2 linked regions of the Homo sapiens genome follow. The protein of the gene in region 1 interacts with the protein of each later gene in a pairwise test. Each region holds a gene or a part of one and is shown on either strand. Other genes may lie near its edges. The genes, in order: HNF4G and HLF.

What was found.
Region 2: the proteins of HNF4G (region 1) and HLF interact in a two-hybrid assay, tested with the Homo sapiens proteins (one large-scale study listed by BioGRID and IntAct).

Annotation. Positions count from the first base shown.
Region 1 is NC_000008.11:75,553,322-75,557,149, forward strand, and holds part of HNF4G (hepatocyte nuclear factor 4-gamma), read left to right. Parts: intron 1-2,660; coding exon 2,661-2,748; intron 2,749-3,828. UniProt on the Homo sapiens protein: Transcription factor. Has a lower transcription activation potential than HNF4-alpha.
Region 2 is NC_000017.11:55,313,420-55,317,247, reverse strand, and holds part of HLF (hepatic leukemia factor), read right to left. Parts: intron 2,022-3,828; coding exon 1,801-2,021; intron 1-1,800.

The sequences.
Region 1 (3,828 bases):
AGGAAGGATTGGGTTTCCTTACCCATTCACCTTGTTCTATCAAGAGGCACAACTGTTTGACTTCTATTTTAGGGGTGTAGCAAATTTATTGATTGGACAAGAACTGAACAAAACACTCCTCTGCCCTTTTGGAATTTTAAAAGGGTCATGTGAGGGAGAAAGGTAGATAGCATGTAACTATCATTGTGAGACAAAGTATTAGAAGAGTGAATGTCTGTGAAGCAAATGGTGGATGTTGTGTATTGGCGTTTACTGAAGCTGCTATATAAAACTCCTCAGAAATACCAGGTCACTCCTAGACAGAAACCACACAGGTTGTGGTGTTGTCTTGGTGGGTACTTCATGCAATTAACATAAAGTTTTACCTTTCATGCTGTCAATTTTATTCTAGAATTTATTGTATAAAAGTTACATGTCTGGCAAAAAGAAAAACATCTGTAGAAACATGATCAGAAATTTATAGAGAAATAAAATTTACACAACAAAAGATAGAGTGATCTTTTACTAATACTTCTATTTTCATATTTTGTCATATGCCCATTAGGATATTTTAATAAATACTTAGGAACTTGAATTTCCTAATTGTACTATAAAGATAAGTATTTTGGTTTCAGATTCATTTTGAACCGTTCTTACTAAGTAGGGTATAATTTTTTGTAGATGAAAATAATTGGAAAAATTCCCTTTCTCTCACCTTAAATTAACCATGGTAAGTGTTATAACCAGTGTATATTTATTTTTAAGAGAGCGTTTCACCTGGTGACAGGAAAAAAAAATACAGTGAAATCTGAAATAATTCTTAAAATGCTCTGTAACTGCCTTCCTGGTGTGAGTCACGAATATTGACATACCATAAAGATAGCATGGCTCAGAAGGTTATGCCAGTGAATAACGCTAAATTGCTAAAACCTACCAGTCTCACCCCAAGCAATATAAGTAGGGTTACGTTATTTATCAGTTTTATATTTTTATTATCATTCTTCTTTAGAAGTTGCTGACTTATATATTCAGTGATTTAAAAATTGGGAAATTAAAATCCAGTAACCAGTGAAAAACAGTTTTAATTTGCCAACTGATTCTTTAATATTAACAGTATAACATTTATTAATTAGCCACAAATTAGTAAATGTCTGTTATGAATAAGGCATGGGAAATTAGCTTTCAGTTGCACTATAAATTACATCATTTCATTTAATTCTCTCAGGAGCTCGGTGACAGGTGTTATTATCTCCATTTTACAGTTTCTAAAACTGAACCCTAGATCAGTAAAATTCATTCAATAAATTCATCAAATGAATATTTATTAGGAGATTACTGTTCAGTTTTAGGAACTGTGGGTATTTAGCAGTAAAAATACAGATTTCTTCACTATTCTCATAAATGTACACTCTATTTGAGAAAGGTGGATAACTTAAAAAATGCAAAAATTATGAGAAAGTTCATTCCAAGTGGAGATAAGCTCTATAAAATGCTATAAAATGGAATAGGATGAGTTGTTGGAGAATGGGGATAAAATGAGAAGAGATACTTTAAACTGAGGACCAGAGAAGTTATTGCCTGAGACCCTGAAAGACAAGGGGCCAAGCCCAGGAGAATCTGAGAAGAAAGCACTCCAGATACAGGAACAGCATGTCCAAGGTTCTGAGTCAGGCAGCAACAATGTGAACAAGGGGTGTTGCAAGATGAAGTCAGAGACATGAGGGCTGGGAGGCAAAGCACTGACCCCTCTCACGCCTCCCATCACCTGTGAGGCCATGTTTGACGAGTTTGGATTTCAGTCTAGGGACAATAAGAAACCATTCAAAGAGTTTTCAGCCTGGACTAGGGTGGTAGCAATGGAGATGAAAAGAAGTGGATCACTTTGGCTTGTATTTTGAGAAGCAGCACTAGAATTTACTGCAGAGTTAGAGAGGACTCAAAATAGTCTCTTGTTTTGATGTGAACAAGCACTTTGGATTACGGTGTCATTTACTAGATGAAGATAATGGGGAAGTGTTACATTGGTAGGTGTTAAATTTGTAATGCTTCCTATACTTCCTAGTGGTGATGCCCAGCAGGTAATTGAGTGTACGAATGAAGCTCAGTTGAGAGCTTACTGAGAAGAATAATCTAGAAAGCGGCAGAACCCAGACCTCCCATCTTTTCCTTACAAGAAGTCTTTGCTTTGCTTTTGTTTATTTAGTTTATTACGTGCAGGAGATTATGTTTTATATATGTTTTATCGTTTAGTACTCATGAGTACATGATGAGATTTTTTTTATCTCTACTCCCATTTTGTAGATGAAAACAAATGAGTAAGTTCAAACGTACTGGTTAACTTACACAAGGTTAAACAGGTAGTAAGTGGCCGTGCTGGGATTTGAACTCTGGTCTGATTCTGTTTCCCTTGCAAACAGTTAACTTGTCTGCTTTTTTTTTTTTTCTTTCTGCTGCCATTGTATTGATTTGCTAGATAGTTTTAAAATTTTTGAAAAGTAAGTTCTATTGACATGCTATGATAGAAAACTGGAAGGCTTAATGATGGCATGTATCTATGAATACTATAGTTTGTTAAACAAAAAGTCCCAGGCTTAAAGAACACTCTAAGTTAACAAGACTCATGTCATCTTTTAATCATTATATATTATAATTAATTGTTAAACTGAGAATTTTTCATTAAGGTGGCACTGTTGAGAGCTCACGCAGGGGAGCACTTACTGCTTGGAGCTACAAAGAGATCCATGATGTATAAAGATATTTTGCTTTTGGGTAAGTTTTTTTTTTTTAATTTAAGAAGAAATTATGCATATTTTATTCTTGCAATATTATACAGGGTCTGTTCTGTATGTACCAAGTATTTACAGACACTGGCAAATGGTGCTGTCACTTCACAGGTTTAATTTAATTGTGTCCTCACTTGGCCTTATTTTTCCTTGCCTTGACTGTATGTAAGTTCAGAGTCCATGAGACAATCAGGGAGCATTAAGATTTAAAAATAAAAAAGAGATGTTGCTCAATAAACATAATATTGAGGTATGTTCAAATTATATCAGAATGAATAATTAGTAAATTATATGGCTGCCTTATGGAGTCTCAATGTGTTTTCATATTTCCTCAGAGTCTGCTTTTTATTTTACACACTTTAAAAAAACATGTTTACGTCCTATGATCTTATTGCCCATGATAGCCCACGATATGCTACAAAATGATCAAGTAAAAAAGTATTGGTGGTAATGACTGAACAATTTCGATAGACAGGAATGCTAGAAGAGGCTAAGGAAGGATAATAGGTGTGGGGTGGTGGGGTAGAGAAGACATAAAGAAAAGACATTTGTCTTCATTAATTGCTCCAATCCCGCTACCTTACTTAACTTAAACAGTTAGGTTTTGAGGGTTGAGATCCTTCTGACACTTACTAGCTCTACCTCTCTCTGGCATGTGTGAAAATATGACTAGATTATTTTATTTTTGTGCTAGATGTTTTAGCCCCAAATATAAATAAATTGAAGACAATATAACAATATTTAATATTATTGCAGGTTTACTATGTAAATGCACTGGTCTAAGTACATTACATGTATATGTATATATATTCTCTCATTTAATCCTTGAAATAGCCCTAAGGGATTAGTACTACTATTTTCAGCCCATTTTGCAGGTGAAGAAATGGAGACAGAGAAAGTTTACCAAAGGTCACAAAGCTAGAAAATAATATAGCCAAGATTCTAAACCACATAATGTGATTGTGGAGACTATGCCCTGAAATGCTATTAAATACCTCTCTTGAATTTCTAGTAAACATCTAGAATACTGTTCTTGTTATAGACCTAAATGCAATATACCTAGAAA
Region 2 (3,828 bases), on another chromosome or scaffold:
CACCTGTAATCCCAGCACTTTGGAAGACCGAGGTGGGCAGATCACAAGGTCAGGAGATCGAGACCATCCTGGCGAACACGGTGAAATCCCGTCTCTACTAAAAATACAAAAAATTAGCCGGGCGTGGTGGCGTGCGCCTGTAGTCTCAGTTACTCAGGAGGCTAAGGCATGAGGATGGCTTGAACCGGGGAGGCGGAGCTTGCAGTGAGCTGAGATCGTGCCACTGCACTCCAGCCTGGGCAACAGAGTGCGACTCCATCTCAAAAAAAAAAAAAAAAAAAACACCATAAAAAATTGGATCACTAAGAAGACAAGACTAGGAAAGGCATCTCATTGAAATAAGGTACCTAATTGCCCAAGACCTGAGCCCATGGTGCCCCTTTTTTACCCCATCTCAGTCTAACCATCAATGTCCTGACTAGTTTAGATTTTCTGGTGTTTTTACCATGTGATTTCCTTTTTTGATTCTCAGGGTGACAGCCATTGATTTGTCACCCATGGGCCCCCGTTATAGCCCTTGTCAGGGCCAACATGCTGCTGTGACCTTTTGGGAAGCAAGACAACCTGGGAGCCAGGCTAAGCCTTTCTCTAACAGGTAGTGATCCGCTGACTTCAGCTTTCCATTTTCTGCATTTCCTCAACTGCAAGTGGTAATTTTGGACAAATGAATCTCTAAGGTCCCCTTCAGCCCTGATGTTTTCCTATTCTGCATCAATTAAGGTAATCTCAGGAATGTGGATGACAGCAGTGATTTAAATTTGCCAGGTACTTCTGCTTCCAGCATTTTTTCTAGCTATGTAAAGCAGGAACAACTGGTCTAAGCCAGTTCAGACGTTGTCTCAAATTCCTATTTCCCAGCCTAGGAGTGTCTCTACATAGGAACAATAGTTAGGTTTGAGAGATGGGGGGCAGACAGTAGAAAAGGGCTAATTATGCCTGGTTCCAAGGCCTTGACTACATAATAATCATATCTCTAGTACCCACATGATTGGAAAGAAGCATGAAAGTTCTAAGCAATGGTTAATAAGAAATGGTTCTATTTTGGCATTAGCAGACATGGCATAATTTTGGAAAGAATTTTCATCCTAAGATGTCATTATTGTGTCTGGTTAATTTTGTTTTAAGCTGTATTTGACTTCCAAGGTAAATCTATTTCCCTTTATAAATAAGGTGTCCCTTCAACACTGCAGAGAAAACCTACTTAGAATTAATCTAGCGGTGAGATATTCAAGTGATCGTTACTTAAGATACATATAAATGGTGTCAGGGAACTACCAGTTTCCTTCACAAAATCCCACCCTGGTCATCCAAGGTTGGCAATATGGAGGAAGGTCCTATCTCTGGCTGTTATTCCTCGCAGCCTACAGGGAAATGGCAGCAGCAAATTATCAAAAATTTTCTAAAAGGAAGGTAACCCTTCGAGGGCAATGAGGTTCAGATGCCCTTCTCAAATGATTTTCTTTCTCTTCTCAACCTTGAAAGATGTGGGGTTTAATTTTATTAGACTTTTGTGGGTTTCCATGCAGATAGGAGCAGGTTTGTTTCCTTCATGGGTTTAAAATCACTCCAACATTTTACTGCTTCTCCTTGTTTCTGTTCAGCATCAAGACATAAAAGTGCATTTCAAAAAATACCCAGAGAGGAAACAACTGGCCTAGAAGTCACATGCCAAGAAACAGGATCAGAAATCAGAAATCCTTCATGCACTAGCTTCTGGGATCATCCTGGGGTCACCCTTTTAATCTGTCTGTGGATCCCACTCTCCATTTGCCCAAAGACTGATTACCAGTTCCAATTTACCTTCAGGTCATCAGGGATGAAGACTTTGCGAGCTTTCTTGATCATGGGCTGTGGCTTCAGTTCTTCCTCAGAGAACTTGCGTTTGCGAGGGTCAAACATTTCCTGGCCAGGGATGCTGGAAAGGGCAAGATCTGCTGGGTCTGGCTCATAACCCACTGGGACCTGGATGGTGTCAGGATCAATGGGACTTGGTGTATTGCGGTTTGCTGGCAACAGCTGACCTGGAACAACACAGGAGTTTTAATTCATGAACACCCTAGAGAGACCCAGTAGGCAGCTACTTAATGGTGCTCTGAGATGAGTGGTAAGAGTCTTCAGCTCACTTATATATGATGCTAACATGATTTATCTTACTCATCCGCACTGCATTTCTGAGAACACAGCAGGTTGAGTATGACTTGACTCACGTCACATCAGGCAAAACAGAAACCCACATACACATGTTCAAAAACTAGAGAAGGAGAAGCCCAATTTAAAAATACACATTCATTCTTTCCTATCACACAGCGATGTGCCAGGCACTCTGCAAGATGCAATGAACAGAACTACGTAATTTTCACCTTGAGGGTGGTTTCCAGGTGAGTCAGGGAGACAGACCAATAACTAGCCAGTTAGGGGAGAGTACAGATGTTGGGATGGAAGTAATTCTCATGTGCTTCCACAGTGTGAGGAAATGGTACGTAACACAAAGGAGGTTAGGGAGCATTTCCTAGAGATGACTCTTGGTACAGCCGCATCTTGAGACAAAGAGTAATTAGCAAAAAAAGGGTATTCTAGGTGCCAAGACAAGACAGAGGTTTGCATTTTTGCAGAACCACGTATAGTCTTGGGTAGCTGTCACATTGAATCAGAAGAAAACAGAGTGGGGAGAGGTGCAAGCACAAGAGATGTGGCCAAGAAGGTGGGCAGTGGGGATATGATTTTGAACAATCCAAATGTCAGTGAGAGATGCTGAGCAGTGAAGTGACAAAGAGCTGATGTTTGGAAAGAAGAATCAGGCAGCATGATGAACGGATTGCATGAGCCACGGCTGCAGACTGATGAGATGCAAGGCTGTTGTGATAAACAGTGTACACATTAACGGTAGCAATGGAGATAGTGAGAAGGAGATTAGTTCAAGAAATATTTAACAAATTAGAAAGAACATAATAGAGACAATCTAACTTCCACTTGAGGGTCCTACAGGCAAAACCACTGAAATGCACAAACATCCAGAGAACAATGGGTTTCTTGTGTTTCTCAATGTGTCTTACTGGTGAAAGTGAACTTCATACCAGACCCAAATGTTTATACTGGGAGCTCTGAATTTTAACTTCTAGTTTTCATCTGAATTTTACAATCACTCCTCTCACGCCCCATGAATAAATGAGAGGATGTCGTTCAGCTGTGTTTGGCCCATCTCCCCCTCTTCCTCACTGCCAATGGTAGGTCAATGTGTGAAGTATTCTTTAGGTTTCATTAAAACCTACCCCAGGTCGAAGCATGAAGCCACTGGCTCGGATTCTAGCAAAACTGTGAAACCGTGATCATCTGTCTTCTGGAAAGGCCTGGTGGGGAGTTTGCAAAATGAATGCTCTGGGTGACCTTCTAGGTCCCACTCTGCTTTGCGCTCTCTTTGTATCCTGCTTGCCAAAGAGGAAGAGATGGGCCCTGAGGTGCTGGCAGAGGATGGAGAGTTCTCATTAGCCAAGCTGTAGCTCAGCTCCAGCTTCTAGAGACTGCTGAGTTCTGTACTGGATGGTGTCAAGCTAGATTTGATCTTGTGCCTCTTGAGATTGCCTCAGAAAATGAACCACCTGTGATTCAAATGGGGATTTTATTTTCCCTTTAGAAACTCTTTGAACTTAATAACAAAGCTACCCAATGCCAATGCCCCATCACTACAATGTCCCCACCTCCCCATTCTTACACAGGCATGTGCACCCATCTCCTATCATCATGTAACACCTCTTAATACTTCCCAAATCGAATTGCTCCAAGCTCCTCCTTAGTACTCCAATATTGTTTATTATGCTGTATCAAAATGTT